Homo sapiens: one gene and its partners. The protein of the gene in region 2 purifies or fractionates together with the protein of the main gene of each other region. This does not show direct contact. Each region holds a gene or a part of one and is shown on either strand. Other genes may lie near its edges.

Evidence for each region.
Region 1: the proteins of ANGPTL4 (region 2) and WDR47 purify together in Homo sapiens (affinity purification with mass spectrometry; 2 studies listed by BioGRID and IntAct, with this or other methods). This does not show direct contact.
Region 3: the proteins of ANGPTL4 (region 2) and C12orf43 purify together in Homo sapiens (affinity purification with mass spectrometry; one large-scale study listed by BioGRID and IntAct). This does not show direct contact.
Region 4: the proteins of ANGPTL4 (region 2) and ITIH2 purify together in Homo sapiens (affinity purification with mass spectrometry; one large-scale study listed by BioGRID and IntAct). This does not show direct contact.

What each region holds. Positions count from the first base shown.
Region 1 is NC_000001.11:109,011,103-109,019,015, reverse strand, and holds part of WDR47 (WD repeat-containing protein 47), read left to right. Parts: intron 1-1,414; coding exon 1,415-1,498; intron 1,499-5,088; exon of another isoform or gene 5,089-5,090; coding exon 5,091-5,175; coding exon of another isoform or gene 5,176-5,196; intron 5,197-7,297; coding exon 7,298-7,913.
Region 2 is NC_000019.10:8,365,811-8,373,723, forward strand, and holds part of ANGPTL4 (angiopoietin-related protein 4 isoform a precursor), read left to right. Parts: intron 1-143; coding exon 144-254; intron 255-391; coding exon 392-509; intron 510-3,408; coding exon 3,409-3,522; intron 3,523-5,245; coding exon 5,246-5,341; intron 5,342-5,430; coding exon 5,431-5,712; intron 5,713-7,840; coding exon of another isoform or gene 7,841-7,894; coding exon 7,895-7,913. UniProt on the Homo sapiens protein: Mediates inactivation of the lipoprotein lipase LPL, and thereby plays a role in the regulation of triglyceride clearance from the blood serum and in lipid metabolism. May also play a role in regulating glucose homeostasis and insulin sensitivity.
Region 3 is NC_000012.12:120,999,826-121,007,489, reverse strand, and holds the end of C12orf43 (protein CUSTOS), read left to right. Parts: intron 1-1,095; coding exon 1,096-1,169; intron 1,170-2,396; coding exon 2,397-2,487; intron 2,488-2,997; coding exon of another isoform or gene 2,998-3,000; coding exon 3,001-3,337; 3' UTR 3,338-6,297; coding exon of another isoform or gene 6,298-6,425; 3' UTR 6,426-7,004; downstream 7,005-7,664. Other genes in the region: HNF1A (hepatocyte nuclear factor 1-alpha), read right to left, coding at 6,298-6,425. UniProt on the Homo sapiens protein: Plays a role in the regulation of Wnt signaling pathway during early development.
Region 4 is NC_000010.11:7,720,316-7,728,228, forward strand, and holds part of ITIH2 (inter-alpha-trypsin inhibitor heavy chain H2 precursor), read left to right. Parts: intron 1-540; coding exon 541-648; intron 649-1,333; coding exon 1,334-1,462; intron 1,463-3,135; coding exon 3,136-3,252; intron 3,253-6,634; coding exon 6,635-6,803; intron 6,804-7,387; coding exon 7,388-7,513; intron 7,514-7,913. UniProt on the Homo sapiens protein: May act as a carrier of hyaluronan in serum or as a binding protein between hyaluronan and other matrix protein, including those on cell surfaces in tissues to regulate the localization, synthesis and degradation of hyaluronan which are essential to cells undergoing biological processes.

The DNA of each region.
Region 1 (7,913 bases), on a different chromosome or scaffold from region 2:
GTCACTGCAGCCATGACCTTCTTGACTCAAGCGATTATCCCACCTCAGCCTTCTGAATAGCTGGGACTACAGGCATGTACCACCATGCCCAGCTAATTTTTAAATTTTTTGTAGAGATGGGGTTTTGCATGTTGCCCAGGCTAGTCTTGAACTGCTGGGCTCAAATGATCACCTGTTCTTTCTTTTTTGTGTGTGTTTTTTTGAGACAGGGTCTCACTCTGTTGCCCAGGCTGGAGTGCAGTGGCACAATCTCAGCTCACTGCAGCCTTGACATCTGGGCTCAAGTGATCCTCCCACCTCAGCCTCCCGAGTAGCTGGGACCACAGGCATGCACAACCATGCCTGGCTAATTTTTGTATTTTTTGTAGAGCCAGGGTTTCGCCATGTTTCCCAGGCTGGTTTCGAACTCCTGAGCTCGAGTGAATTGCTTACCTTAGCTTCCTAAAGTGCTGGGACCACAGACATGAGCCACTGCGCCCAGCCACTTGTTCTTAAAATAATATATAATAGCTTTAAAACTGTAAGATGAATATGGAAATATAGGAACTTTAAAGCTTAGTCCATTTTTTTTTTTTTTTTGAGACAGAGTCTCTCTTTTGTTGCCCAGGCTAGAGTGCAGTGGCGTGATCTTGGCTCACTGCAACCTCTGCCGCCCAGGTTCAAGCTTCTCCTGCCAGTAGCTGGGATTACGGGCGCCCGCCACCACGGCCAGCTAATTTTCGTACTTTTAGTAGAGACGGGGTTTCGCCATGTTGGGCAGGGTGGTCTCAAACTCCTGACCTCAGGTGATCTGCCCACCTTGGCCTCCCAAAGTGCTGGGATTACAGGTGTGAGCCACCACGCCTGGCATGTCCAATGTTTTTACATAGGTCAAAACCCACATATATATAGTTAGTATGAGTGGTTGCAGATTCACAAATTCTTCTCATACAGTGTATGTTGTTACAAATAAGTTATGAAAAATTTAGGCCAGGTGAGGTGACTCACGCTTGTAATCCCAGCACTTTGAGAGGCTGAGGTGGGTGGATCACCTGAGGTCAGGAGCTTGAGACCAGCCTGGCCAACATGGTGAAACCCTGTATCTACTAAAAATAGAAAAGAATTAGTGGGGCTTAGTGGTGCGAGCCTATAGTCCCAGCTTCTCGGGTGTCTGAGGCAGGAGAATCGCTTGAACACAGGAGTCAGAGGGTGCAGTGAGCCGAGATTGTGCCATTGCACTCCAGCCTGGGCAACAGAGCGACACTCTGTCTCAAAAAAAAAAAAAATTATGAAAAATTTATTTGAGGAATCAAATAAAATGTTAATCTCATTGTGTGCTTTATGAAGTTTGAATGCTGTTTTGTCATCTGTTCTGCTTTTAATTAGTATAACCTGAATTTGGTGACATGCTGGTTTTTTTAAATTTTTTATTTAGGCAGCTAATACTTGATGGTCAATGGGATGAAGTTCTTCAGTTCATTCAGCCTCTAGAATGTATGGAAAAATTTGACAAAAAAAGGTAAGATTTTATCTAAAGTTTTTAGTGTCTCATCATTGGTAGAAGCTTAGCAAAACAATGAACAAAAATTTTCATTTTCATTTTTCTTTCTCCACTGGCCTTGAACAGAGAGTAAACAAATTGATCTCTCTCTGTCACCCAAGCTGGAGTGTGGTGGCATGATCACAGCTCACTGCAGCCTTGGTCTCCTGGGCTCAAGCAATCCTCCCACTTCAGCCTCTCAAGTAGCTGGGACTATACAGGCGTGTACCATCAGCCTAGCTAATTTTGTATTTTTTTTAGAGTTAGGGTTTCACCATGTTGCCCAGGCTTCCCTTGTGTTCATTTGGATTATTTTAAGTTGATTTAATGTTCACTGACCCTTTCTTTTGCTATTAGCAATCTGTTGATAAATTGTGAATTTTTAAAAACAGGTTCTTGTTCTACCACCAGGCTGATGTGCAGTGGCATGTATGTGGCACTGCAGCTTCAAATTCAACAGTGAATTTTTCATTTTGAATATTGTGCTTTTCATTTTCAAATTCGTATAATTTTTTTGTAAGATTTTTCCATCTGTTCATTCATTATGATTATATTTTTCTTTAGGTCCTTCAACATACTGAGAGTAGCTGCTTGTTTGCTAGTGTAGTCCTTGTTTGGTAATTTGGACTTGTGCTTGCTTATATCAGGCTCAGTTTCTAATGATTGCCTTTTCTCCTAACTGGGAGTCACTTTTTGTTTTTTTTTTTAACTATATCTAATTATTTTGTAAATGTAATCTGCACATTTCAGCTTCACTCTTGAGGCTCTGAATTCTGTTCTCTTCCTACATAAAAAGTTTGATTTTCATACAGGCAGTTATTTAACTTAGGTAGCCTCAAAATGCAAACTCTTTCTCCCCTCTTGTGGATACCAGAGATTTGTCCCGAAATCTCTGCTCAGTTCTTTGGCCTTTCATCTGTTTTCTCCAGGCTCCTTGGAGTCTCCCTTGCATCTTCACAGTTTAGGGGATAGCCAGGGATATGGGTACCTAAGTTTATACAGTAGATTTTGGTATGTTTCCTACTGTGACGTCGTCCTTTTTTTGGATCTTCCTCTCATTTTTTAGCTGCTCTGGCAGTACCAAACTTTTTTTTTGAGACAGGGTCTCATTCTGTTGCCCAGGCTGGAGTGCAGTGGTGTGAACACAGCTCACTGTAGCCTTACCTCCTGGGCTCAAGTGATTTGCCTGCTTCAGACTCCTGTGTGGCTGGGACTGCAGGCGTGTGCCACCCCGCTAGGCTAATTTTTAAATTTTTTGTAGAGACCAGGTCTGACTTTGTTGCCCAGGCTGGTCTCGAACTTCTGGGCTCAAATAATCCTCTTGCCTTGGCCTCTCAAAGTGCTAGGATTACAAGTATGAGCCACTTTGTTCAGTCAGTACCAGACTTTTCAAGCTACAGCCTTCTGTTTGAGTTCTAGCTCACACTGTGTGAACTGGGGAGTGCCCTCAGCTGGAAAGCCTTATGCTGTTGAATATAACCCCTTAAATTTCTGGGTTTTTTTTTTTTTTTTTTGAGATGGAGTCTCACTCTGTCACCCAGGCTGGAATGCAGTGGTGCGATCTTGGCTCACTGCAACCTCTGCTTCCCAGGTTCAAGCGATTCTCCTGCCTCAGCCTCCCGAGCAGCTGGGACTACAGGCATGCACCACTGTGCCTAGCTAATTTTTGTATTGTTAGAAATGGGGTTTCACCATGTTGGTCAGGCTGGTCTCGAGCTCCTGACCTCGTGATCCACCCACCTTGGCCTCCCAAAGTGCTGGGATTACAGGCTTGAGCCAACGCACCTGGCAAATTTCTCTTTTTTTAAGGATTGACTTCCCTCTAGTTGTGCCAGCTTTTCAAATGCATTCAAAATAGTCATTTTTTGAGGCCAGGCGTGGTGGCTCACGCCTGTAATCCCAGCACTTTGGGAGGCCGAGGCAGGCGGATCACTTGAGGTCAGGAGTTGGAGACCAGCCTGGCCAACATGGCGAAATCCTGTCTCTACTGAAAATACAAAAAAAAATTGGCTGGATGTGGTGGCACATGCCTGTAATCCCAGCTACTTGGGAGGCTGAGGTAGGAGAATCACTTGAAACTGGGAGGCAGGGGTTGCAGTGAGCCGAGATCGTGCCACTGCACTCCAGCCTGGGCGACAGAGCAGGACTCTGTCTCAATCAGTCAATCAATAAACAAACAAATAAATAAAATCACCTTTTTTTGGTATTTTATGTAAGATTTATTGTTGTTATATGCAGAAATGTTAGCCAGATATAAGTTACTCTATCACTATCAGAAGTTGAACCTGTTGTTATTTTTTGATTTGCTATTCAGACCATGCTGCTTGATATTTCTTTGCGTTTGTACATTCTTTACTTACCTGGAATATTAATCCCTTCACCATCTCCTGCCTTTACCTGGTACACTTCTGATTGTCTTCTGAGAGTCAGTTGTTATGTCTTTTTTTTGTTAACTTTCCACCTCTTTTGTACAATTGGTTTCATACTTTTTTGAGGCCTTGCTGAACTCTGAATATTTCATATAATTTATTAGGTGACCCTCTTTTTGAAGGCAGGGATTTTGTTTTATTGGACACAATTTGCTACTACAACAGTGGCTGAAAGAATGACTGAAGGTTCATTATTTTTTTCTTTCCAGACTTGGAAACACTTTTTCTATAAATTGCTTCAGGCAATAAAGCTTTTGATTCTTAGACAGGTTAGGTAGACTCTTTGCTATCCCTTCCCCTCTGAAAAACTCTTGTTAAAAAGCTTTAAATTGGGACCAGGTGCAGTGGCTCATACTTGTAATCCAAGCACTTTGGGAGGCTGAGGCAGGAGAATTGCTTGAAGCCAGGAATTTGAGATCAGTCTGAGCAACAAAGTGAGACCCGGTCTCTACAAAACAATTTTAAAAATTGGCCGGGTGCTGTGGCACACAGTTGTAGTCCTAGCTGCTTGGGAGGCTGAGGCAGGAGGATTGCTTGGGCCAAAGTTTGAGGCTGTAGTGAGCTGTGATCATGCCACTGTACTCCAGCTTGGGTGACAGAGCAGAAGACTCTGTCTCTAAAAAAAAAAAAGAAAAGGAAAAAAGCTTTAAGTCTCTAGTTATTTTGTAGTGTTTTAGAAATGTTCATTTTCTCCTACCCTTTCAGCCCCATTTTTTATTAGACTTTTCTCATATTTAAAAAGAAAATATTTGATTTAATCTTTCTACAATGTATATGTATTTAAAAATGTAACATACCCCATAAATATATACTATTATTTGTTAAAATTTTTTTAATAAAAAACAGGATGTAAGGTAAACAAAACATTTTGGATATAAGACTTGATTTAATATTAGGTAACATTTGATATCTTCCATAAAAATTGGATTGTTGTTTACAATTAATATTGGAAGTATAAATTCATTCTCTGAGTGTTAAATTGTGATTACTTGTGACTGAACTTCAGTTATGGCTTCAATGTGATAAGAAGCCTAGTAAATTATTTGAATAATTTTCCTAAAGCAAAAGTACTTACATAGTAACTTCTAAGTATATTTGACATCAGACATTGGAAAAATTAATGCTTCATTTTTTTCCCACAGGTTTCGTTATATTATCCTGAAGCAGAAGTTTTTAGAAGCTTTATGTGTTAACAACGCGATGTCAGCAGAAGATGAGCCCCAGCATGTAAGATTTTTATTCCTGAAGGTTTGCGCCCTAGTCTTGTTTTCAGTCATAAGTATTTTAGTCACTAAAACGAAGGATTAGCATCACAAGTTTTCAGAGTTTTTATGAGCTGGGATGGGGCAAGATCTGGTGTTTTCCAGGTGTAGTATTTTCATTCTGTAGCGCTTCTAAACTTGTTCCATGGTTTAAGCCAAGATATATAAATAGCTGGCTAGTTGAAGAGTGTGTGCATCTCTCTTGTTTAAGGTAAGTCAGCAATAGATAAAGTTTGACTTGATGACTCTTCATCATTTCTTCTTTTTTTTAAATCCCGGAAGTGGGTTGGTTATATTTATGTCCTTTTTCTCTGTCTTTTCTGTATTGTCTTTGATCCAGAGATAGTTTTTTTTTTGCTGAAATGTTTGTCTTCATGACTATTTAAATTTAATGAAATTAAATTCATTTTGATTAGTAAAGTGACTTTTAAAGATTCAGTGTAATACTAAAACCGAGAAAACTTGTATTAAGTTCTGGTAATTGTTAACTGAAGTAAAGTGTCTTAGTCCATTTGACCTGCTATAACAAAATATCATAAACTAGGGGGCTAGTAAACAATAGAAGTTTATTTCTTACAGTTCTGGTAGCTGGAAAGTCCAAGATCAAGGTACCAGCAGATTCATTGCCTGGTGAGGGCCTGTGCTCTGGTTCATGGATGGTGCCTTCTAGCTGTGTTTTCAGCTGGTTAAAGAGGCTAGCTAGCTCTCTGGGGTCTCTTATATGGGCACTAATCTAATTCACGAGGGCTGAGCATTTATGACCTAGTCACCTCCCAAAGGCCCTACTTTTCCAATACCATTACCTTGCGGGGTTAGGATTTCAACATAGGAATTTTAGGGAGGCACAAACATTCAGACTGAGGCAAAAACCAAAGGATTTTACAGTGGGGACTTTCAGATACAGATATATTTGCCAGATAATGATGTTCAAAAGTGAAAAGAACACTGGAACATGAGTTAGGAGACCTATTTTTTATTCCGTCTTTGCCACTAATCAACTGAATTACCTTGGTAAATGTGTACCCTGACTTTTCCCATATGTAAGATATGGTGGCTAGACTAGGTGAGTGCTGAAGTTCCTTACATCATTAAAAGCTTATGATTCAAAGACAATATTCACTATACAAATTATTATAATTTGTCTCTCAGCTAAGCTTCCATTTTGGTCTGTCTGGATTGTTTTGTAGTAAGTCAACTTTAGGCATTCCCTTTCTGTTTTTTTTTTTTTTTTTTGAGATGGAGTCTCACACTGTCACCCAGGCTGGAGTGCAGTGGTGCGATCTCAGCTCACTGTAACCTCTGCCTCCTGGGTTCAAGCAATTCTCCTGCCTCAGCCTCTCAAGTAGCTGGGATTACAGGTGCCCGCCACTGTGCCTGGCTAATTTTTTGTATTTTTATTAGAGACGGGGTTTCACTGTGTTGGCCAGGCTGGTCTCGAACCTCATGATCTGCCCACCTTGGCCTACCAAAGTGCTGGGATTACAGGTGTGAGCCACTGTGCTCGGCTCCCTTTTCTTGACTTTCTATCTCCACACAATTTTGCTCTAAGGTAAGTTTGGACTAACAGAGTGGCTCTTTTGCCTTTTGGGTAAGCTGGAATAATAGCAAAGTTTATAAACAATTGAACATTGGCATGCTTCAATTTTCATTTCTAGAAAAAAAATTCTTACCGTTAAAAAATTATATATTTGAGAGCTGGGCACAGTGTGGCACACCTGTGGTCCCAGCTACTTTAGAGGCTGGGGATCACTTGAGCCCAAGAGTTCAAGGCTGTAGTGCACTATATTTGTGTGTATGAATAACCCCTGCACTCCAGCGTGGGCAGCAGAGTGAGATCCTGTCTTATGCCTGAATTATAATAGAACAGTGTTTTTATAGATAAAAGTTTAATGTACTAATAAACCAAGTTTATTATTTTTATTTTAGTTGTGAAAACATTATGTTCCTATCTTGAAAGCTGTTGCATATCCTACAAATTATATGAGTATTCTGTGGCAATATAATTTATTCTTTGTACTCTTGTCGTTTTCATATTTCATAGCATGTTTTTTATAGTGATTATTTGATCATTTATATTTTTCTTACAGCTGGAATTTACCATGCAAGAAGCTGTGCAATGTTTACATGCTCTAGAAGAATACTGTCCTTCTAAAGATGACTATAGTAAGCTCTGTTTGCTTTTGACTTTGCCTCGTCTGACCAATCATGCCGAGTTTAAGGACTGGAATCCCAGCACCGCACGAGTTCACTGTTTTGAAGAGGCTTGTGTCATGGTTGCAGAATTCATCCCTGCTGATAGGAAGCTAAGTGAAGCTGGTTTTAAGGCTAGTAACAATCGTTTATTTCAGCTTGTAATGAAAGGCCTGCTTTATGAATGCTGTGTAGAATTTTGTCAGAGTAAAGCAACTGGAGAAGAAATTACAGAAAGCGAAGTGCTTCTTGGCATCGACCTCTTATGTGGTAATGGTTGTGATGATTTGGATCTGAGTTTACTGTCATGGCTTCAGAATCTTCCATCTTCTGTCTTCTCTTGTGCTTTTGAACAGAAAATGCTTAATATTCATGTTGACAAACTTCTGAAACCTACAAAAGCTGCATATGCTGATCTTTTGACTCCTCTTATCAGCAAACTCTCTCCCTATCCATCATCCCCAATGAGAAGACCTCAATCAGCTGATGCCTATATGACCCGCTCTCTGAATC
Region 2 (7,913 bases):
CCGTCATTGGGAAAAAAAAGAAAAAAGAAAGACTCCCTTGCCTGGCCTCAGCGGATGGAGATTTGGAAGGATGGATGAGTGGATGAATTAAGAGGTTGGGGTAGGCAAGCTGGGTCCTCACCAAGGTTTTCACCCCTCCCCAGACACAACTCAAGGCTCAGAACAGCAGGATCCAGCAACTCTTCCACAAGGTGGCCCAGCAGCAGCGGCACCTGGAGAAGCAGCACCTGCGAATTCAGCATCTGCAAAGCCAGGTAACCCTAGGATCAAGGGAGAAAAGGTCCCTCTGATAGCTGGACCCCAGGTTGAGAGGGAGGTGGTGAGAACTGGACGTGTGGCTGGGGACGTGGGGCCAGGCAGGACCTGACACCCTCCTCCCGTCCCATCCTAGTTTGGCCTCCTGGACCACAAGCACCTAGACCATGAGGTGGCCAAGCCTGCCCGAAGAAAGAGGCTGCCCGAGATGGCCCAGCCAGTTGACCCGGCTCACAATGTCAGCCGCCTGCACCGTGAGTGTCTGCCCCTCGATGCTCTCCGGTGGCCACCCCTACCCCGCCACTTGCCATTGCTGGTCCTCTCCTTGTCAGGTCCACCTTAAGGAGAAGATGTCCTGGCCTGGAGTCCCTGAGGGCTCACCAGTCTCTGGGTCAAAGCTGATGGGAGCACCTCCTTCCTCAGCCCTGACCTGGCCCAGCCAGGCCACCCAACCCTTCTCCTCTGCAAGCCAGTGGGCTGTCCCTGAAGCCCTGCTGATCACTGATTGGAACAGAGGTGGAGAAAGAGGTCTTGAGGGACTTGAGCTGCAGGGGTGCTGGAGAAGGTAGAAATGGGGTTCGGGGTGCCATCCTGAAGGTTAGAACCTTCTAGGGGAGGGTGTCATGGAGGAGGGGGTGCCAGGTAGTAGTGTTTGTAGATTTGGGCCCTCCACAATGTCTTGGGGTATGTGGGAATTAGGGCTGGGAACCCCCAGCTCCCAGACCAGAAACACTCTTGTATCTTACAAATCCAATGCTCCAGGTCCCTGACCCCTCTTCCTCCTTCCTCTCTTGTTCTCCTCCTCCCTCCCCGCCCCCGCCGGCCCCCTCCCCACCGCAGAAAGTGGGCTTTTGCTGCCACCACAAGTTGTAGGTGCTTTATTCCCAAATCTCCGTTCATCTCGAACCACAGCATGTCCACGTGTGTCCGATGCAGACTCGCGGTTCTCTAAGTTCACGGCCCCACACGGTTTCTCTGTGGTCCTCATCCTTCCCTGCATCTGTGGCTGTCCACAGCCAACTGGGTGAAAGTTTGGATCCCCCTCTCACACCCTAGGGTCAGTGGCAGGCTTCCAGCACTGTAGACCTGAGGGTTCTCTCCTCCCCAAGCTCCCGCTCCTTCCCACCTCCGTGCTGCCCGCCCCCAACCCCGCCAGGCTAGCATCTCAGCGTGGTCAGGGTCCTGTCCACCCTCCCAAAGCCACCATCCCAGGATGAGGGGCTTCTGGAGGGTGACGGGGGAAGGCACAAGTCCTGGCTGGGAAATGCGGTGGAAGGGGGCAGGGGTTCTGTGGGTTCGGGACTCCCAGACTCTTGGCTCAGGCCCGCCAAGTAGGAGAAAGTTCAGAGCTGGGAAGGCGAACAGCTGGCATTCATGGAAGCCACACTGGTGGTTTGGCCGCGTGCCCATCCTTACTGGATGGGAGGAAAGTAGGGGAAAGGGGAGATGCCTGAGGGGCCGGAAAGCGTCTTCCTGGTCACTCTGGGCCCGCCCCCACCCCCACCGTGCAGACTCATTTCGACCTTTCCCCTACTTTTCCGGCTGGGCTGGGGGCGGTTCCTCCCAGTCTGGAGCGTCTGAGCCTCCAGACGTGCTCAACGCCATCCTCCCCTCCTCCCTCCCTCTTTCTTTCCTCAACCCTGCCTCCTCTCCCTCTAGGAGCTGGGACCCCAGGCAGAGCCTCTGAGATGCTCCTGCTCAGCACAGTTCTTCCCGTTCTGGACCTGCTGCCTCATTCATTCATTCATTCATTCATTTGTCAAGACTGTTTTGTTTGCTTTTTGAGACGGAGTCTCGCTCTGTTGTCCAGGCTGGAGTGCAGTGGCGCAATCTCAGCTCACTGCAACCTCTGCCTCCCACTGGGTTCAAGTGATTCTCCTGCCTCAGCCTCTCAAGTAGATGGGATTATAGGCGCCTACCGCCACCACGCCCAGCTAATTTTTATTCATTTATCAAGTCTTTTTTTTTTTTGAGACAGAGTCTCACTCTGTCACCCAGGTTGGAGTGCAATGGTTCAACCTCAGCTGACTGCAACCTCTGCCTCCCGGGTTCAAGTGATTCTCCTGCCTCTGCCTCCTAAGGAGCTGGGATTACTGGCGTCCACCATCACACCCAGCTAATCTTTGTATGTTTTACTAGAGATGGGGTTTGGCCATGTTGACCAGGCTGGTCTCAAACTCCTGACCGATCCGCCCGCCTCCCAAAGTGCTGGATTACAGGCATGAACCACTGCGCCCGGCCCATTCCTCAAGTCTTTATTGAGCAGCTGCTATGCGCTGGGGCCTGCGTGGATGCTGGTGCCAGGCTGTGGGCAGAGCTGCTCCTTGTCCCCAGCCTCATGGAGCCTCCATTGAGTCAGAGGAGAGACCATTAGATGACCTCAGTGTCCAGGAGTGGGAAGTCCTTGCTCAATTCCCATTTGGGGTGTTCTGGCCTGGTCTGGGGGTGAGGCAAGGCAGGGTGTCCTTCCAGAAGCTGGGACCCAGAGAGAGAAGTGAGGAAAGAGAGTCCCGCCGGGCGCAGTGGTTCACACCTGTAATCCCAGCACTTTGGGAGGCCAAGGCTGGCGGATCACGAGGTCAGGAGATCGAGACCAGTCTGGCCAACATGGTGAAACCCCCGTCTCTACAAATAATGCAAAAACTAGTCGGGCGTGGTGGCACATGCCTGTAGTCCCAGCTGCTCCGGAGGCTGCGGCAGAATTGCTTGAACCTGGGAGGCGGAGGTTGCAGTGAGCCAAGATTGCGCCACTGCACTCCAGCCTGGCGACAGAGCGAGACTCCGTATCAAAAAACAAAACAAAAAAAGAGAGTCCCAGGCAGGGGGAACAGCATGTGCAAAGTCCCTGTGGCAGGACGGTGTGTGGTACAAGGGTGGGAAGAAAGCCTGTGTGCCAGAGAGGGTGTGGGTACAGCATGGCAGGAGGAGGATGGGCACGGGGGCTGGTCCTCCAGGTGCCTTGTGGACCATGCTGAGGAAGGACATAGGGAGCCATGGAAGAGGTTAGGCAGATGGCAGAGAGGTGGTCATGAGATAAGATTTGCCTTTTACTTCCCTGGTCATCCACTGTTAAGCCCCCAGATATGCCTGGCTCCTGAGACCCCCCCCAGGGGCTGCCCTCCTGTTTCAAGTCTCCACTTTATCTCCCTTCAGGGCTGCCCAGGGATTGCCAGGAGCTGTTCCAGGTTGGGGAGAGGCAGAGTGGACTATTTGAAATCCAGCCTCAGGGGTCTCCGCCATTTTTGGTGAACTGCAAGATGACCTCAGGTAGGGTGTGTTAGTCCACCAGGGGCCCCTCTCCCCATAGGCCCTGTTGTCTTTCTTTAAATTGAAAACAAAACAAAACAAAAAAATTAAAGGCAGGGTCTTGCTATGTTGCCCAAGCTGGTCTTTTTTTTTTTTTTTTTTTTTGAGATGGAGTTTTGCTCTTGGAGCTGGAGTGCAATGCCACGATCTCAGCTCACTGAAACCTCCGCCTCCCGGGTTCAAGCAATTCTCCAGCGTCAGCCTCCCCAGTAGCTGAGACTACAGGTGCGAGCAACCACACCCAGCTAATTTTTGTATTTTTAGTAGAGACTGGGTTTCACCATGTTGGTCTGGCTGGTCTCAAACTCCTGACCTCAAATGATTTGCCGACTTTGGCCTCCCAAAATGCTGGGATTATAGGCATTAGCCACTGCTCCTGGCCTCTTTTCTTTAAAATGCAGCCCTTGTCTGGGTGTAGTGGCTCATATCTGTAATCCCGACACTTTGGGAGGCCTATCATGAGGATCACTTGAGCCCAGAAGTTCGAGACCAGCCTGGACAACATAGTGAGAGCTCATCTTTACAAAAAATTTTGTAAAAGTAAAAAAAAAGGCCAAGTGCAGTGGCTCACACCTGTAATCCCAGCACTTTGGGAGGTTGAGGCAGACAGATCACGAGGTCAGGAGTTCGAGACCAGCCTGACCAACATGGTGAAACCCCGTCTCTACTAAAAATACAAAAATTAGCCGGGCATGGTGGTGTGCACCTGTAATCCCAGCTACTCAGGTGGCTGAGGCAGGAGAATCTCTTGAACCTGGGAGGCAGAGGTTGCAGTGAGCTGAGATGACGCCACCGCACTCCAGCCTGGGCGACAGAGCGAGACTCCGTCCCCCCATCAAAAAAATAAAAAAGAGAAAATAAAATAAAATAAAATAAAATTCAGCCCTTGCTGGGCATGGTGGCACATGCCTGTAGTCCCAGCTACTCGGGAGGCCAAGGCAGGAGGGTCACTTCAGCCCAGGAGTTAAAGGCTGCCGTGAGCCGTGATCACACCTGTGAATAGCCACCGCACTCCAACCTGGGCAACACAACAAAACCTCGTTTCTAAAAAAAAACAAAGGCTGAGCACGGTGGCTTACACCTGAAATGCCAGCACTTTGGGAGGCTGAGGCGGGCAAATCACTTGAGGTCAGAAGTTCAAGACCAGCCTGGCCAACATGGTGAAACCCTATCTCTACCAACATAAACATTAGCCGGGCGTGCCTGTGATTCCAGCTGCTTGTGGGGCTGAAGCACAAGAATCGCTTGAGCCCCGAAGGCAGAGGTTGCAGTGAGCTGAGATTGCGGCACTGCGATCCAGCCTGGGCAACAGAGTGAGACTCCATCTCTAAAAAAAAAAAAAAAAAAAAAGAAAGCTTTTTTTTCCACTGAGAAGTCCTTTCCATTACAAGAGGTTACAACACGGGGTTTTACCCAGTTCAGCTGGCCCAGAGAGGCTTTGCAGATTTCCACTGCCTACTCCCTCCCACACTCAGTCCCTGCTGGGTTCTTGGGACAAAGATCTTCCCAAGGCCAGCCCATAATATTCCTCCCTCTGACCCACCCTCCTCGAGTCCTCCAGGGATGAGTGAGGGAGCTGCTGTCTTCCTGGGTTTGGAGGGGGTTTGGTGCTTGGCAGCCAGATGAGGGAGTGGGGTCGTCTGTGAAGAGGGACTTCCTGGTGACCTTGTACCTTTCTGGGCAGATGGAGGCTGGACAGTAATTCAGAGGCGCCACGATGGCTCAGTGGACTTCAACCGGCCCTGGGAAGCCTACAAGGCGGGGTTTGGGGATCCCCACGGTAGGTGTTTCTAGTGGGGACAGAGGCAGGGGAGGAAGAGGGACCCTCAGAAGTGGCCCTGCCTCATGGAGTGGCCTCTCCCACTCCAGGCGAGTTCTGGCTGGGTCTGGAGAAGGTGCATAGCATCACGGGGGACCGCAACAGCCGCCTGGCCGTGCAGCTGCGGGACTGGGATGGCAACGCCGAGTTGCTGCAGTTCTCCGTGCACCTGGGTGGCGAGGACACGGCCTATAGCCTGCAGCTCACTGCACCCGTGGCCGGCCAGCTGGGCGCCACCACCGTCCCACCCAGCGGCCTCTCCGTACCCTTCTCCACTTGGGACCAGGATCACGACCTCCGCAGGGACAAGAACTGCGCCAAGAGCCTCTCTGGTGAGCAGGCCCTGCCATGCCACACCCAGCCAGCAGCTTCCCTCCTTATCTTTCTGCTGCTCTGTCCTGCCTTCAACCCCACATTGCATCTGTTTCCTGCCCCCACCTCTTCCTTACATGCCGTGTGTGTGATTGGGCCACTAACTTAGCCTATCTGGCCTCAGTTTTCCCATCCTGAAAAGGGTCTTGACCGTCTTTACTTTTATTTACTTATGTGTTTGTTTATTTATTTATTTATGTATTTATTTTTTGAGACGGAGTCTCACTTTGTCACCCAGGCTGGAGTGCTTTGTGGCACGATCTTGGCTCACTGCAAGCTCCACCTCCTGAGTTCACACCATTCTCCTGCCTCAGCCTCCCGAGTAGCTGGGACTATAGGTGCCCACCACCACGCCTGGCTAATTTTTTTGTATTTTTAGTAGAGATGGGGTTTCACCGTGTTAGCCAGGATGGTCTCGATCTCCTGACCTCGTGATCTGCCTGCCTCAGCCTCCCAAAGTGCTGGGATTACAGGCGTGAGCCACCGCGCCCGGCCTACTTATTTATTTTTTGAGACAGAGTCCCGCTGTGTCTCCCAGGCTGGAGTGCAAGTGACGTGATCTTGGCTCACTGCAGCCTCCGCCTCCTGGGTTCAAGTGATTCTCCTGCCTCAGCCTCCTGAGTAGCTGGGATTACAGGTTCCCGCCACCATGCACAGATAATTGTTTTGTATTTTTAGTAGAGACGGGGTTTCACCATGTTGGCCAGGGTGGTCTTGAACTCCTGACCTCAAGTGATCTGCCCACCTCGGCCTCCCAAAGTGTTGGGATTACAGGCGTGAGCCACAATACCCGGCCACAAACATCTTTATAATGGTGCTCCACAGGATTCTTTTTTTTTTTTTTTTTTTGAAACAGGGTCTCACTCTGTTGCCTAAGCTGGAGTGCAGTGGTGCGATCTCGGCTCACTGCAACCTCCACCTCCCGGGTTCAAGCAATTCTCAAAAAAAAAAAAAAATTAGGCACGGTGGCTCACACTTGCAATCCCAGCACTTTGGGAGGCTGAAGCGAGTGGATCACTTGAGCCCAGGAGACCAATCTGAGCAACAGGGCGAAATCCTGTCTCAATTAAAAATACAAAAAACTAGCTGGGCATGGTGGTGCCTGCCTGTGTTCCCATCTACTTGGGAGGCTGAGTTGGGAGGATCTCTTGAGCCTAGGAGATAAGGCTGCAGTGAGCTGAGACTGCGCCACTGCACTCAAGCCTGGGTGACAGAGTGAGACCCCTGCCTCAAAAGAAAAAGAAAAAATGCAGGCATGGTGGCTCACACCTGTGGTCCCAGCTACTTGGGAGGCCCAGGTACAAGAATCACTTGAGCCCGTAAGGTTGACGCTGCATTGAGCCATCACCACACCACTGCACTCCAGCCTGGGCAATGGAGCCAGGCCCTGTCTCAAAAAAAATTGTTTTTAAACTTAAAAATAAGGCCGGGTGTGGGGGCTCACACCTGTAATCCCAGCACTTTGGGAGGCCGAGGTGGGTGGATCACCTGAGGTCAGGAGTTCAAAACTAGCCTGGCCAACATGGTGAAACCCTGTCTCTACTAAAAATACAAAAATTAGGCCAGGCGCAGTGGGTCATACCTGTAATCCCAGCACTTTGGGAGGCTGAGGAGGGTGGATCACATGAGGTAAGGAGTTTGAGACCAACCTGGCCAACATGGTGAAACCCCCTCACTACTAAAAATACAAAAACTAGCCAGGCGTGGTGGCGGGTGCCTGTAATCCCGGCTACTCAGGAGGCTGAGGCATGAGAATCCCTTGAACCTGGGAGGCAGAGGTGCAGTGAGCCGAGATTGTGCCACTGCACTCCAGCCTGGGAGATAGAGTGAGACTCAGTCTCAAAAAAAAAGACCAAAAATTAGCCAGGTGTGGTGGCAGGCGCCTGTAATCCCAGCTACTCGGGAGGCTGAGGGAGGAGAATCACTTAAACCTGAGAGACGGAGGTTGCAGTGAGCTGAGATCGCACCACTGCACTCCAGCCTGGGTGACAGAGTAAGACTCAATCTCAAAAAAAAAAAAGTCAAGTCCAAAGCCCAGCCTGGTCCCCAACCTGCCTCATCCTCAACCCTATCCCTATCTCCTTTCAGCCCCATCGGTGGCTCAAAGACCTGACCATGTTCCCTCTCCCCTGACCCCGGCAGGAGGCTGGTGGTTTGGCAC
Region 3 (7,664 bases), on a different chromosome or scaffold from region 2:
GACAACCTTAAGAGGTAGGGACCTTCATCGTTCCCACTGCACAGGTGGATAACAGAGACTCAGAGAGATAAAGTCATTTGCTTAAGGGACATAGCTAATAAGTGACAAAACCGGGATTCAAAACCCAGGTCTCTGAAGTCTGAATGAGGTCCATGAATTGGATCAATTTGCATTTCCTAGTTGTGATGTTGTACTATAGCGAGGCACAATGTTACCATTGCGAGAAAATGGATGGAGGGTCTATGGAACATCTGCATTATTTGTTGCTACTGCATGTCTACAATTATCTCCAATTTCTTTTAATTAAAAAAAAAAATTTAAAAACAGGTCTGCCCTGCTCCAGAAGCTGTCCTCTGAACCAGTTTTCTAGATTGGTCATATTTCCCTTTTCATGCTTGCTGCTAGGAAGCTCAGAGCAAAATGTATGCCCTCTCTCTAACAAGTGTATAGGACTTCCTGACTACACTTCTAGGTCTTTCTGTTCCTCTTGCCCTTATATCTCTTTGTCCTATTTGAAATTGCATTCATTTTGTTAAATTCTTTTCTTTTTTTGGAGATGGAGTCTTGCTCTGTCACCCAGGCTGGAGTGCAGTGGCGCAGTCTCAGTTCACTGCAAGCTCCGCCTCCCAGGTTCACGCCATTCTCCTGCCTCAGCCTCCCGAGTAGCTGGGACTACAGGCGCCCGCCACCATGCCCGGCTAATTTTTTGTATTTTTAGTAGAGATGGGGTTTCACCGTGTTAGCCAGAATGGTCTCGATCTCCTGGCCTCATGATCTGCCTGCCTTGGCCTCCCAAAGTGCTAGGATTACAGGCGTGAGCCACCATGCCTGGCCTCATCTTGTTTTACTATGTCTTTAAAACTTCTTCAACACTTACTGGAATAAAGTGGGCTTTAAAGAAATGAAGCACTGCAGTTCGCGTGGCAGAGGCTGGTCAGCATGTTATAACCAGACCATCAGCCCTCTTACTAGGCCAGCACGCTTTCGCTTTTGCATTTACAATCACATACCCCATCCCCTCCACTTGAAAAAGAATTTTGTTTTTGTCGTTATCCAAAAATCTCATCTTAAATCAACCGTCTCGTCTCCCTGTAGCTTCATTACCATCTCAGAAGCAGCAAAGGAGCCAGCAAAAGCTAAGGTACAGAAAGTCGCTTTGGAGGATGATGGTGAGTGGTTATACTTAATAGAAGCTATCATTTATTAAGCACCTAATGTGTGTCTGGAGGTGGGCGAAACAGTTTTGGTATATTCTTTTTTTTTTTTCTTTTTTTGAGATAGGAACTCTCTCTGCCACCTAGGCTGGAGTGCAGTGGAGCAATTATAGCTCAATGCAGCCTCAACCTCCCGGACCCAAGCAGTCCTCCCACCTCAGCTTCCTGAGTAGCTGGGACCACAGACACACACCACCACCCCTGGCTAATTATTTATGTTTTTTAGAGACAGGATCTCGCTATGTTGCCCAGGCTGGTCTTGAACTCCTGGCCTCAAGCCATCTGCCCACCTTAGCCTTCCAAAGTTCTGGGACTACAGGCGTGCACCACCACACCTGGCTAATTTTTGTATTTTTTTTTAGAGACAGGGTTCTGTCATGTTGCCCAGGCTGGTCTTAAACTCCTGGCCTCAAGCTATCCTCCCGCCTCAGACTACCAAAGTACTGGGGTTACAGGCATGGGCCACCTCACCATTCTTTCATCTGCTCAGCCCCTGTGGTGAGGCAGGTATTATGATTGAACCCCATGTACAGACAAGGAGACTGAGGCCCTGAGAAACGAAGTCATTTGCCTGAGGCGGCCTCGTCTGTGTCACCCTGAGCAGGAGCACTTTACTGCTGCCCTCCACAGCCTCGCCCATCTGCGTCTGTCCTGTACCAACACATTTGCCACTTTGAAGGCTGCCTTAGGTCAGGAGCTCAAGTGCTGACTTCCAGAAGCCTCTGAGGGCTTGCTGAGCTGATGTGGCTGCTGGCTCCTGCTCCAGCGCGCCCTCCACTGGCTCCATCAGGCATCAGCATGACCCTTGGCAGATGCAGAATCACTTTGTAGTTAGACGACTGATTCCTGGGTCTTTGCCTCTGGACCAGGAGCTCCTGAGGGCAGAGGCGGGGCAGCTTCAGCACCTGGCACCTGGGAGGAGGGGCTGGCATCTGGGGGTGCTGACTCTGCTCCTTTGTTTTTTTTGTTTGTTTGCTTGGTTGGGTTTTTTTGTTATTGTTTCTTTTTTAAATTTTTTTATTTTGTGTCTTCTTAAAATTTTTTTTTTGTTTCTCTTTATCTTTTCTTTCTTTCGTTTTCCTTTTTAAAATTTTTTTCTTTTTTGTTTCTTTATTTTTTATTTTTTTATGTTTCTTTTTGTTTTGTTTTGTTTTTGTTTGACTCTGCCCCATTGAATCTTAGGTTTCCGCCTTTTCTTCACATCTGTCCCTGGAGGCCGTGAGAAGGAAGAGTCTCCCCAACCCCGCCGAAAGCGACAGCCCTCCAGCTCCAGGTGAGAACTCACACCTCTCCTCACGTCCCCTCCTTTTTTCTCCTCTTCTGTCTTGGTGGGTTCCCTGGAATAGCCAAGCAGACTCCAGTCAGGACCAGGCCAAGGCAGTGGCCCTGTCAGGCAGCTGGAGAAATCATGAGCTCAGCGGGAGGGAAAGCCCTCTTGGCGGCAGCTTTGGATGTTTACTGCTTTTGAGCACCTGTCTTGGGCCAGACACCTCACTTGATCATAGTTGCCTCCTGGGACATCCCTGGGAGGCCTGGACTCTGTTAAGATCCCCGTTTTAGAGATGATACAGTCAGAGAGGTTAAGTCACTTAAGGAGGTCACAAGGCTGCTACGCCCAGAAGCCAGTATTGGAAGCCAGGTTGGCCTCACTCCCAAGCCTGAACTCACTACCTGCCTCTCTCTGCGGCCACCTTCTGGTGACCTGGACCAAGGGAGGACAGCGAGAGGCAGCTCTGGGGCTGTGTCCTGACTCCAGCTAACCCAGGGTACCCTCTCGTTGCAGCAGTGAGGACAGTGACGAGGAGTGGCGGCGGTGCCGGGAGGCAGCTGTGTCGGCGTCCGACATCCTACAGGAGTCAGCCATCCACAGCCCTGGAACAGTGGAGAAGGAGGCAAAGAAGAAAAGGAAGTTGAAAAAGAAAGCCAAGAAGGTGGCCAGTGTCGACTCGGCTGTCGCTGCCACCACCCCCACCAGCATGGCCACAGTCCAGAAGCAGAAGTCAGGTGAGCTCAACGGGGACCAGGTGTCGCTTGGGACCAAAAAGAAGAAAAAGGCAAAGAAGGCCAGCGAGACCTCTCCATTCCCACCAGCAAAGAGTGCTACAGCTATACCTGCAAACTGAACCCAGCCATGGGCACAGGGCTCAGCCAGCTCCAAGGACAAGGTGTCCCCCCCACCCTGGGGACAAGGCATTTCCAAGCCCCACCTCCCTCTCCAAGTTCAAGGACTGGGCTGGCAAACCCAGACTGCCCATGAGACCCTGATGGTGATGAAGGCTTGCTCGAGAGTTGGGCCAAAAAAGTGGCTGTAGGGTGAGAAGACCAATCAAGGCCTGCCCCTCTGTGCTCCCACGGAGGGCTGGCGGGGGCGCTGTGGTTCCAGAACATTTCATGACCTCAGGAAAAAAGGAACCTTCCAGTTATTTGAGACTAGTGGCCAAGTGGTGAAACCTCCATCTCCCTAGAACTGTCTGAGGTGGGCAGGGGAAGGGAGACCTTCCCCACCACCTCCTTAGCCTGGTGTGAGAAACAGTTTTTAGAAAATGAGAGAAGGGATCCCCAAGAGGCCAAGGCCCAGAGAAACTTTTGTTCTTCTCTCCTTAGCCCACATAGACTTCACAGAATCGTCTGAGAAAGGAGAGCTTTTTCACCCCTGGCTTTCTAGAATTTTCTTTGTCTGCATTTGTGAATATACCACACATGATGGTGTCTCTGAGCCGACCAGATTATGGAAACTCAATTGTCAGAGGACCCAAAACAAAACTTAGAGTGATTTGGATATTGCCTCTCTGTCAATGCTGAACCTTAAGACATTTTAAGTAAACATCCTCCTCCTCTCTACACCCCCAGGATTTGTGCGTTCACCCCACCCAAGACTTCAGGAAGTGTCATAGCACTCGTGGACTAGGTTTCATGGGACAAAGGCATTCTGCAAGAAGTAGAAGCTTGTGGCCGGGTGCAGTGGCTCATGCCTGTAATCCAAGCATTTTGAGAGGCCAAGGAGGTGGATCAATTGAGGCCAGGAGTTTGAGACCAGCCTGGCCAACATGGCGAGACCCCATCTCTACTAAAAATACAAAAATTAGCTGAGCATGTTGACACACGCCCGTAATCCCAGCTACTCAGGAGGCTGAGGTGGGAGAATCGCTTGAACCCAGGAGGTGCAGGTTGCAGTGAGCCGAGATTGCGCCACTGCACTCTAGCCTAAGCAATGGAGCAAGACCCTATCTCAAAAAAAAAAAAAGAAAAAGAAAAAGAAAAGAAGTAGAAGCTCATGGCCAGGGATGGTGGCTCACACCTGTAATCCCAGCACTTTGGGAGGCCGAGGCAGGTGGATCACTTGAGCCGAGTTCCAGACCAGCCTAGGCAACATGGTGAAACCTCGTCTCTATAAAAAAAAGAATACAAAAATTAGTTGGGCATGGTAGTGAGCGCCTGTGAGGCTGCTTGTGAGGCTGAGGTGGGAGGATCCCTTTAGTCCAGGAGTTCAAGGCTGCAGTGAGCTGTATAATGCCACTGCAGTCCAGCCTGGGTGACAGTGAGACCCTGTCTCCAAAACAAAATTTTTTTAAAAAGTAGAAGCTTGAGGTTAAGATGAAATCTGGCTTTGTCATTAGAGTCTCAGCAGAGCAAGAAAAGCAGAGATGTGGGGTGTGAGAGCGTGGGTGCTGGAGCCTGTCTCCTCTTCGCAGGCCTCTGGCCTGCCCCAGCCTCCCGCTACCTGCCCAAACCCCATCTGAATGATTTGTGGACAAGCAAGAAGTTTCCACCGCATTTCTCCTTGACTTTACTAAAAGTTAAATAAACGTGCCACTCGCCCCGGCTGGCTACAAGCTGCAGGGGGTGCCGGGTCACCCCAGGCCTTTTCCTGAATCCCAGGGTAGACGCGGTACACTGAAGGCCAGGTTCTCAGCAGCAGGCCCAGGGATGTGGGACCATGCTTGTCCTGGGTTCACAGGCTCCTTTGTCCCTCCTGGCAGTGCTCAGGACCTCAGACTCCTCAGGGTGGCTGCGAACTGCCCTCAGCCAGCCAGGCCCCCAGGCTTCTGAGTGTTAGTCCTGTCCACACAGGTAGCTCCTGTGCCCTGGGGTCACCTCTTTCTTCTCCTGGGCACCTCAGCTTGGCCAGTTCCCCGGCCCTGCTCAGCTGCTCGGGCCTTGCTGCCTTGTGAGCTCAGCTACTCCTGCCCCAAACAAGGGCAGGGTCTGCAGGGCGCTCGAGACAGAGGAGCTGCCCCACCAGGACCTGGACTTGGCACGGGTTGCGAGGCTCCCACAGGAGTAAGGACGACTTCCCAGCCCCGAAGTAGCCTTCCCAGTAGAGGCAGGAGGCCAGGCTGGCCTCAGAGGCATGATGCTCTTGGGAACAAATACAGGAAAGCTGGAGGTCATGGGGCCTGGGAGAGGGAATCGCTGGGGATGGGAAGCCAGGAGAGCCCTGCCTGCCTTCCCTGTTAGCTTCGGCCTCCCTGGGCTCAGGCGTTAGAGCCCCAGGCTCTGGCACAGAGTAGCCACCCAGGAAATGCCTGTGTGAGTAGGTGATGGGGTCAGTACAAATGGCATGTGGGTCACTAGCTGGAAGGAGTTGGGGCAGGAAGGAGTGGCCCGGTGGGTACATTGGTGACAGAACAAGGCCACGCTGATCCAGGGCCTCTCAGAGCTCAGCAGGTCACAGCTACACAGGCCTGTGTCCTGAGAAGTGTGGCTGCCAGAGTGGTGTAGCGGTCCCAGGGCTCTCCATAGGCCCAGGCTGGGGGTGCCCAAGTCATAGGCCGCCCCCTTCAGTTCCAAGTAAGAAGACTGTATCCCACGAAGCAGCGACAGTCCCTCCTACATCTGCCATGAACAGGCTTTGCTCCTAGCTCTCCACGACCCCCTCCTGTGCACCCCGAGCAGCCTCCACGGGTTGGGGCGCCTCAGAGCCCTCCCTTTCTGATGCATCAGAGCAGAGTGGGGAGCGAGGCACAGCTGTCCAGGAAGGGCCACGGTTGCTCGGCAGGCTCAGGTCCTCCAGGCAGGGCTGGCTGCTGCCCTCATCACCCCCCAAGCAGGCAGTACAGGCCCCAGGGCCCAGGTGCCGTGGTTACTGGGAGGAAGAGGCCATCTGGGTGGAGATGAAGGTCTCGATGACGCTGTGGTTGGATGGCAGCAGGTGGCTCTGGCCATTGCTGGAGTCTGAGCTCTGGTACAGCACCAGGCTGCTGGAGGACACTGCAGAGGCAAACAAGGCTGCTAGCCACCCACCAGGCACCCACACCCACCCCACCTGCCTGTCCCTAGGGGTACTCAGGATGGGGAGGCAGGGCCACACCTCCTGGATCACAGCAGATAACAGGAACCCCAAAGTCACACCTCTACCCTCGGTTCTTCAAAGGGAGCCTCCCAGCCAGGGTCCACGGCCGCCCATGGAGTGGCCTGAGTACATCTTAGTGTGAACACTGGAGAAGCCCCGGTGAGATGCCGAGGTAGGTAGTTGTACGTGTTGGCTTGGCTAGGCTGAGTCAAACACTAATCTAGGCGCTGCTGTGAATGCAGGTGCTTTGTAGATGTGGTTAATGCCACAATCAGTTGGCTTTGAGTGAAGGAGATTACCCTGAAAATATGGGTGGGCCTCCTACATCAGTGGAAGGCCGTAAGAGCAAAAACCGGTTTCCCAGAGAAGGAATTCTGCCTCAAGGCTGCAGAATTCACTCCCCAGAGCTGCCAGCAACAGATTTCAGGCCTGCCAGCCCCCCGCAGACACGGGCCAAGTCCTTCAAATAAATCTGTTGGTTCTGTGTTCCTGGAGAACCCTGACTGATGGCAATGGTTAAGAGAATGGGCTTTGAGGTGGGACCTGGGTTCGAGTCCTGGCCCTGCCATCTGGTAGCTGTGGGAGATGAGGCAAGTCCCTCCCCTCCTTGAGTGTCCACTTTCTCATCTGTAAAATGGGGGTGGTCATGGACACGCCTCATGGGGTGAATGCCAGGACACAGAATGGCCTCAGTGGCTGTCATGACAGCTGCCAGGGCCGGGTCCAGGAACCTTATAGAAAGGGGGCAGCTTGCAAAAAGGCAGGCTGCAAAGCCCACCCACCTGACTCCAAAGTGCCCACTCCTGACAATGGCATCATAGATTACAAACTCAGGTGACCGCCCCACCGCCAGGGGTCATTGGAGCCGATGTGAGTGGATGCAGTGAGGCCTGGTGCACTGTTATATGGGAATATGAATTTTTCCAATTTTCCAAAAGATGCCAGAAATCTGGATTTCTATGTGAAAATTCCTGATTTTGAAATGTTGGCAACAAATTCAAAGAATGTTCAACCCTGAGCCAAGCCAAACCAAACACATGCAAGAGTCGCTTCTGGCTCACAGACCTGGTCCTTATCGTTACTCTCCACTGCCTCTAACAATTACTTCATCATTTTCCTCAGTCCAGTCCCTGAGATGTTCTTGTAAGGTGGGCCCC
Region 4 (7,913 bases), on a different chromosome or scaffold from region 2:
TATAAACAAACAAATCATAGAATTAAATTTAAAAAAGAAAAAAATGGCAGCTATGACTGTGGTTTGGTCAAGAATCACCAAAGGGGATTTCCCTAGATGAGGTCTGTTCAAAGCAAGAAGACAGAGAAGAAATAAAACAACCCAAGATTTGGGGAAAATGGTCTACTTTTGACAGGTCTACAGAGTAGATGCAGTGCTATTTAACAATGAGGGAAAAAGAAGAAGGAATTCTTTTTTTCCCTAACAATGCAAATGCTCTTATAAATAAAAAGACTCGAATAGAATGAGGAAGGGAGTCGACTCCTGGGGGAGTGAGGCAGCAGAAGGAGAGCTCTGAGTCGACAGAAGGGGGTTAAGCCTCCGTGGTGAGATGAATCCCATCGCAGGAACTTGCAGATCCTGCAGGAGAGATCGTGGAGTCGTGCCCGGGAAACCTGCGGAGGAGAAAAGCATCAGAGGACTTATTTGTAATTTTACTTCTTGCTTAAAAAGACTTTAAAGACTTTTAATGCTTTGGGTAATTTTCTCTTGCATCTCTAGGTAGATGTGTGGGTTATCGAACCACAGGGACTGAGATTTCTTCATGTTCCCGACACATTTGAAGGCCATTTCGATGGTGTTCCGGTCATTTCTAAAGGACAACAGAAGGTACCCTGAGCCCTGTGTGTTGCCAGGCATTCACAGGGCCTCTGGATTGTGGGTTCTGTTCTCCTTCTGTGCTCTGGAGAAGAGAAAAGCAGGCTGGTGTTGAGGACACTGTTGAAGAAATGGGGATCCCCAAGTAGAGCCTAGGGCCTCCCCAGGATACACAGAACAACACTCCCAGTGCTTTCCTTCCATTTTGACCAGAGATTGTCCCTTTTTGAGTCTCATTTCCCCGTCAGTCACCTGCTTAACCAGTAGCTAAAGGACAGCTTTCACATCCTATATGGCAGATTTTCATTCATTAACCATAGCAAGACATGTTCAGCTCTCTGCCTCAATGACCAGCGATAACCAACTATGACTCCTGTAAGGAGAAACTCCTCTAAGAGCATTAAAACATTTCACAAACTCTTTCCAAAGCACATAGTCAGCCCTTCTACAGGGGATGAAGGAAATTCTTCGGCTTTCTTCTAAAAAGGTCTGAAACCTTGCAAACAGCATGGCAGGCTAGAGATGCTCCCTGCAAAAGCCCTGGCATGTCCTTCCCATCAGTAATGGGTCCACCGATATCGCGGGGATTCAGAACGTCCATTGGGCAGCTCCTCTTCCCTGTGTGCTGGAGAAGGGGCAGCGCCAAGCACTGGGAAGGGGCTAGAGGCAGAGGCTCTGATGTCACCGTTCTTTCTAGGCGCACGTCTCCTTCAAGCCCACGGTAGCACAGCAGAGAATATGCCCTAACTGCCGGGAGACTGCGGTAGATGGGGAACTGGTGGTGCTGTATGACGTGAAAAGAGAAGAGAAGGCTGGTGAACTGGAGGTGAGTGCACACCGGCTCTGGTTCTACTGCCAAGCTCGTGCCAAAGAGCTGCTCCTTTTTGAACAAACTCCCAGGCCTATGGGTGGTTTCTAGCTGCCAGGGCAAGTGTTTCTAGCTGCAGAGAAGGGACTAAAATCATATTCTTTGAATATACCGCTAAGCATTATCTTTTATGTATTAAAAACTAAATGAATAGGGTCTCATGCTCTTGTCCCAGGAGGGCATTCCTGGGCCTCATGTGAAGAACAAAGGAATAATTACAGAACAGGAATTTTAAATAGGCTCCCAAGGCCCTTTGCAATTAGACAATCAAAGAAAGCACAGAGATTACGGGGTGAGGAGGAAGGCGCATCCACAGCCTAGAAAGATCAAGAGCCAGCGGTGAATTTCAAGGCCAAGGTTTATCATGAAGTTTCTTGAAAAGTTTCCTTTCCCCTTCAGTCATGTCCCAGACGTGTGTCTTCCTTTCTTTGTACTAAGGTGAGGACTCTTAGAACGTACGCAAACTCCAAGAGTCTCTCTAGGGACAGCAAGCGGAGCACACACCCTGTACCTGGATGCTGTAGTTTCCTGGAAAGAGGCAGCCAAAGGGCAGAGGAAAGAGAATTAGGTGAGCCAGTCATCAAGCCTGCAGCAGAAGACAAAGAGGATGGTCAGGAGTCCAGCTGGGGCAGCCTCTCATTAACTTCAAGAAAAATCCAAATTTTCTAAAGTGGCCCATACACGTCCTTCGTGATCTGTCTTGCTGATTCTCCAACTAGTTCCCTGAATTCTTGGATTCTACGGCCCCATCTTGCTGAACCACATATGGAGCCCCAAATATGCCATGTTTTCTCATCTCTGGGGCTGCGCTGTCTGGAACTCTCTTCCCCATTCCCCACTATCTCAACCTGGCCCAGCTCTCAAGAGAGCTTCTGAGTCTGAGCTCATCCTTAGGTCCCAGTGGAGATGCTGCTTCCTAGAGAACCGTCCCCTGGGTGCGCGTTAGATGCACACGGGGCTCTTGCCGAGCCCTTTACTTCCTAATCATGGTGTTGAACACACCGCGCTGCACATTGCCTCCACTTACCCTTATCCTCTGCTGGCTGGGAGCCTCCTGACGGGAGGTGCTCTGCCTGATTCACCGCTGGTTAGCAGGGCGCCTGGAACAGGGGCTCTCTGTAAAGACTGAGTGATGTGGAGTGGAGTGGAGTGGAGTGAAGTGGCGTGGAGTGGAGTGGCGTGAAGTCGGGTGGAGTGGAGTGGCGTGCAGTGGAGTGGGGTGAAGTGAAGTGGCATGGAGTGGAGTGGAGCAGCGTGGCGTGGAGTGGAGTAGAGTGGAGTGGCGTGGTGTGGTGTGGAGCGGAGTGCCCTGGCATGGCGTGGAGTGGCGTGGCGTGGAGTGGTGTGACGTGGAGTGGAGTGGCATGGTGTGGAGAGGAGTCAAGTGGAGTGGAGCGGTGTGGAGTGAAGCAGCGTGGAGTGGAGTGGAGCGGAATGTTCTGCTAGGAAGGTCTTGACCCTCAGAGGAGAGGAGGTGGGGGAGCAGGCAGGAAAATGTGGAGGCAAATGCACATCAAGCTCCGCCTCCTCCTCCCTGTAGACCCCTCTCTTCTCTGAGTCCCCAGGTCCCCATCTTCCTACCTTCTAAACACGAATCATGATTTGACTCACAAATACCTTCTATTTTTCAGGTGTTTAATGGATATTTTGTCCACTTCTTTGCTCCTGACAACCTGGACCCAATTCCCAAAAACATCCTCTTTGTCATCGATGTGAGTGGCTCCATGTGGGGAGTTAAAATGAAACAAGTAAGTACCCCCTTGTTTGCAGTGGTTGGGGGGATTCCCTATCTTCTTTGATCCCCTCCTAAAAATGCAATCATTCTATCCCTCCTCCCTGCTTAGGGCTGAAGCTCAGGGACTGTGGTTACAGACTGCCGGTGTCAACTCTTCCTAAAATTTTGCTATTATTGCATTTCACAGGACATACACCTCCGTCTTCTAATCATTCCTCTAGTGTAAAATTCCCTTCCTTCTCTTCTTCCTCTTTCCTGTTTCCTCTTCCTTCTCTTTCTCTTTTCCACTCTCTATCCAATATTTCCTTGAAAAACTGTCTCAAAACTCACCTCTTTGAAAAACAGAATCTCTATATAACCTCTTCTTTCAAGGATCAGTCACATTCTTTTTGCTCTTCCACATGTTTTATTATAATATCTTGTCATTGTCCACATATGACTATTGATTCAATATATACATATTATTTCTAATTATATGGTAATTGCTTGAGAGCAGCTATCCATCTTATGTTTTCCAGCTCAGAGCTCAATATAGGCTTACTTAGTGATAAGTGAGATGTACAGATGCAATACTAAAGACCAAACAAGGAAATGATTTAACTTACCCATCAATCCATCCATCCATTCAACCAAGTTGAACAACCAACTAACCAGTCATAGGGCAACTATTTTTGACCACCCAAGAGTTCACTACTACCCTAAGATCTGTAAGGAACCTAAAAGAAGTCCCTGTCAGCCAGGCACAGTGGCTCACGCCTGTAATCCCAGTACTTTGGGAGGCCAAGGCAGGTGGATCACCTGAGGTTGGGAGTTTGAGACCAGCCTGACCAACATGGAGAAACCCTGTCTCTACTAAAAATACAAAATTAGCCAGGCGTGGTGGTGCATGCCTGTAATCCCAGCTACTCGGGAGGCTGAGGCAGGAGAATTGCTTGAACCCAGGAAGCGGGAGTTGCAGCGAGCAGAGATCGCGCCATTGCACTCCAGCCTGGGCAACAAGAGCGAAACTCCATCTCAAAAAAAAAAAAAAAAAGAAGAGGAAGAAGACGAAGACGAAGAAGAGGAAAAAGAAGACCCTGTCTTTCACAGACCCTGCCTGCCTGGGTCTGTACTCCCAGGCAGGGTTTCTCAGCAGTGGGACTATTGATATTTTGGATGGGGTCATTCCTTGTTGTAGGAGGGCTGTCTGGTGCATTGCAGGATACTTAGCAGCATGGTCTATGGTCTATTTGCTAAATTTTGGTAGCACAACCTCCCCTGCATCATAACAATCAAATATAACGTCAGACATTGCCAAATGTCCGCTGGGGGGAATAATTGCCTCTGGTTGAGAAACATTGCTCTAATACAACAGTTTATTCACTGCTTCCTTCCTTCCATCACTCATTCATTTAACAAATATTTACGAAGCACCTACTATGTGTCATACACTTAGTTCATCTATGAGCAAAACAGACCCAAAGCATAAAAACAGAAACCAAACAAAAAACAGAAAAAAAACGGATGCCTACCCTCTGTGTGCTTATGAAACTTACATCTGAGGGATAGGGGACAGAGAATAAACAATACACATGCAAGTACAAATGTACAAGTACGTTCAATGGCAGCATTTTGATAAAAGTTTTTTTAAAAAATAAAAGAAGCATATGTTAAAAACCAAGAGTGGCAATTGCAGGGGTATGCAATTTTAAATAGGCTTGTCATCTAAATAGGTGGTTTCCTGGAGAAGACCTCTGAGGAGACCCTGAGAAGGTGAAGGGAGAGTTGTGCAGATATCTAAGGGAATTAAATGCAATGAACAGCTCATGCAACAGTTCTAAGTCGAAAGTGTGCAAAGAACAGAGAGAGATGCCAGTAGAGAGGGGCAGTGGGAGATGAGATCTGAGAAGTGAGAGGCAAGGTGGCTCATGGAACACCTGTGCAGTCATGATCAGAGCTGGATTCTGGAATCTGTTTTGAAGGTAGAGTAAACAGTATATCCTGAAGGGCTAGCTGTGAGGCAAGGGAAGAAAAGAGAAGTGAAAGATGCCCCAGGACTTAGCCTGAGTGACTAGAAGGATGAAGTGGCCATCCATGAGTTGACAAAGACAGAAATGTAATCAGACATTGCAGGGAATGTCCCAGTTTGGTTTTGGATGCAAAGTCTGAGATTTCTATTAAGTACCCACGTTGGCCATGGAAGCGTGGTGTTCAAAAGTGAGATGTGGAGACACACAGTTAGGACTCCCCAGCATATAGAAGGTACTGTCAGCATTGGGACTAGGTGAGAATGCCGAGGAGTAGATGGACAAGGGAGCCAAGATCAGACAACAGAGCATTCCAATATTGGGAATTTGGGAAGAAGAGGATAATTGGTGATAGAGACTAATAAAAACAATTAGTAAGTGGGGGAGAAAAATCAAGAGAGAATGAGGCCCTGGAAGACAATTGAGGAATTTGTGTTCAGGAGGGAGATGAGAGCACTTGCCGGTGCATGAGAAATGAAGATGGACCTTTGGATTTAGTGACATTAGCATCATTGGTGACCTTGACAAGGGCAGTTTCAGTAGAGTGACAGGGATGAAAACCCGAAAGGATTGGGCTTATGAGAGAATAGGAAGAGAAGATTTGGAGACAGTGTGTTTAGACAATTCCTCAAGGAATTTTATTGCAGAAGAAAGCTGAGAAATGAAGAAAGTGGATGCACATGAGGTTTGTAGAAGGGTGAGAAATAACATGTTTTTGTTGATGGAAATGTACCAATAGAATAGGGAAATTGAAGAGGCAAAGGACAATTGCTGGAGCCATGATCTTTAGTCAAAGAGAGGGAATGAAATAGTTCATGAATAGATGGGTTTGCATTAGGTAGAAATACTGCTAGTTGTTCTTTATTATCAGGTAGGAAAGAAAAATGTATGGGTACAAATATTGATGGTTGGGATTTTATGGTAGTGGGAGTCTGTGGGAATGTTCTTCTGTCTGCTGCAGTTTCTCAGTGGAGTTGGAATCAAAATCATCACACGTAAGCTAGAGAAAGAGGGTGATGGTGGTGGTTTAAAGAGAAAGATGAGGAAATAGTTTAAGAGACTGGGTGAGTAGATGGACTTGAGAAATGTATTTTATTTTCAGGCATCATAAAGGTGGCACTCGAAGTTTGTGATCCTTAACATAAAGACTAGTCAAACTGGTTGTGCATAGCAAAATAGATAGTAAAATTATCAAAAAGCCAACAGTACATGCCCAGAATAAATAAGGGGCAGGTCTGCATTGACTGAGGTGGGCTCAAGAGGTTTTCTGGAAGAAGTTTAGCTTGAGAAGAACTTGAAAGATGACCAGGATCAATGATTGGTCTTCCTAGTTCCTCTGAGGCTCAGATTTTCTGTAATGGGACCTGTCTTTATTCTCTATTGAAATAGACTGTGGAAGCAATGAAGACCATATTGGATGACCTCAGAGCAGAAGACCATTTCTCTGTGATTGATTTCAACCAGAACATTCGAACTTGGAGAAATGATTTAATTTCAGCTACAAAAACACAGGTTGCAGATGCCAAGAGGTATATTGAGAAAATCCAGCCCAGTGGAGGTGAGTGTGTTGGGCTAAATCCCAAGGAGACACTTCCTCTGGGTTCAAATCATGATTCACTTAAGAAGCATTATTCCCATCACAGTGGTCTTTCCCCAGCATTCGAGGGCCTATCTTAAATAATACATTTATTGGTAATGGATGAATGCTAAGTTTGTAGTGAAAGTAGAATTTGTAATACAGCCCACATAAGCTTTGAACCGTTTTAATGTCTCTCAGAAAAAGGTTCAGTGACACTGGCCTTCTTTATTGCCTGCATAAAGCATAAAATGTTACTATCTTCAGAGTATCTTGGCAAGGCTGATTTGGATACTTTAATCTGGTGTTTAACAAGCTAACAGTCTGTGCTTTGAAAGGGCTAGTTCATCTCTAAGGGGATAGTTTATTTCAAAGTGAATATTTCACTGCACTGGGGGACCACCAGCTTGAGCACAGTTTGTGTCACTCAGAAAGCAATGAAATGATTTTGGCATGGAATAAGTGATGGATAAGTGATCAGCCGACATATGAGTCTGAATCCAGAATGGGATTTTCTGCGTGTGGCGAGAACGCATACCCAACGTTTCATTATGCTACTTCAACAGGCACAAACATCAACGAAGCACTCCTACGGGCAATCTTCATTTTGAATGAAGCCAATAACTTGGGACTGTTAGACCCCAACTCCGTCTCGCTGATCATTTTGGTTTCTGATGGAGATCCAACAGTGGGCAAGTGTCACTTCAACCTTCTCACGACAAACACTTTCACTGTTGTTTCTTGGAATGGTGGTTTGCCTAAAAGGGGAACTCTAATGGCATTTGCCTGAGTTTCTAGAACATTTTAAACCCATGCTTCCTAAAGGAGGTCTTCTGATCCTGCAGCCCTCACCCCTTAAGCTACTGCTCAGACACTTTCAGCAAGGGCGCTCTTGAATGCCTCAGTTCCACCTCCACAATATGCAGAAATCTGAGTCTGAATTTTAATAGTATGTTGTGAGGATTGCTGATGCATTCTAGGGAAATGCATCTATTTCCTCAACTTGAGGTATGTGAAGATGGTGTATGGGGGTGGTGAATGATGAGTATTGATCCCAGATCTCCCAGCAGTACCTTTGGAGGCCACAGTAGC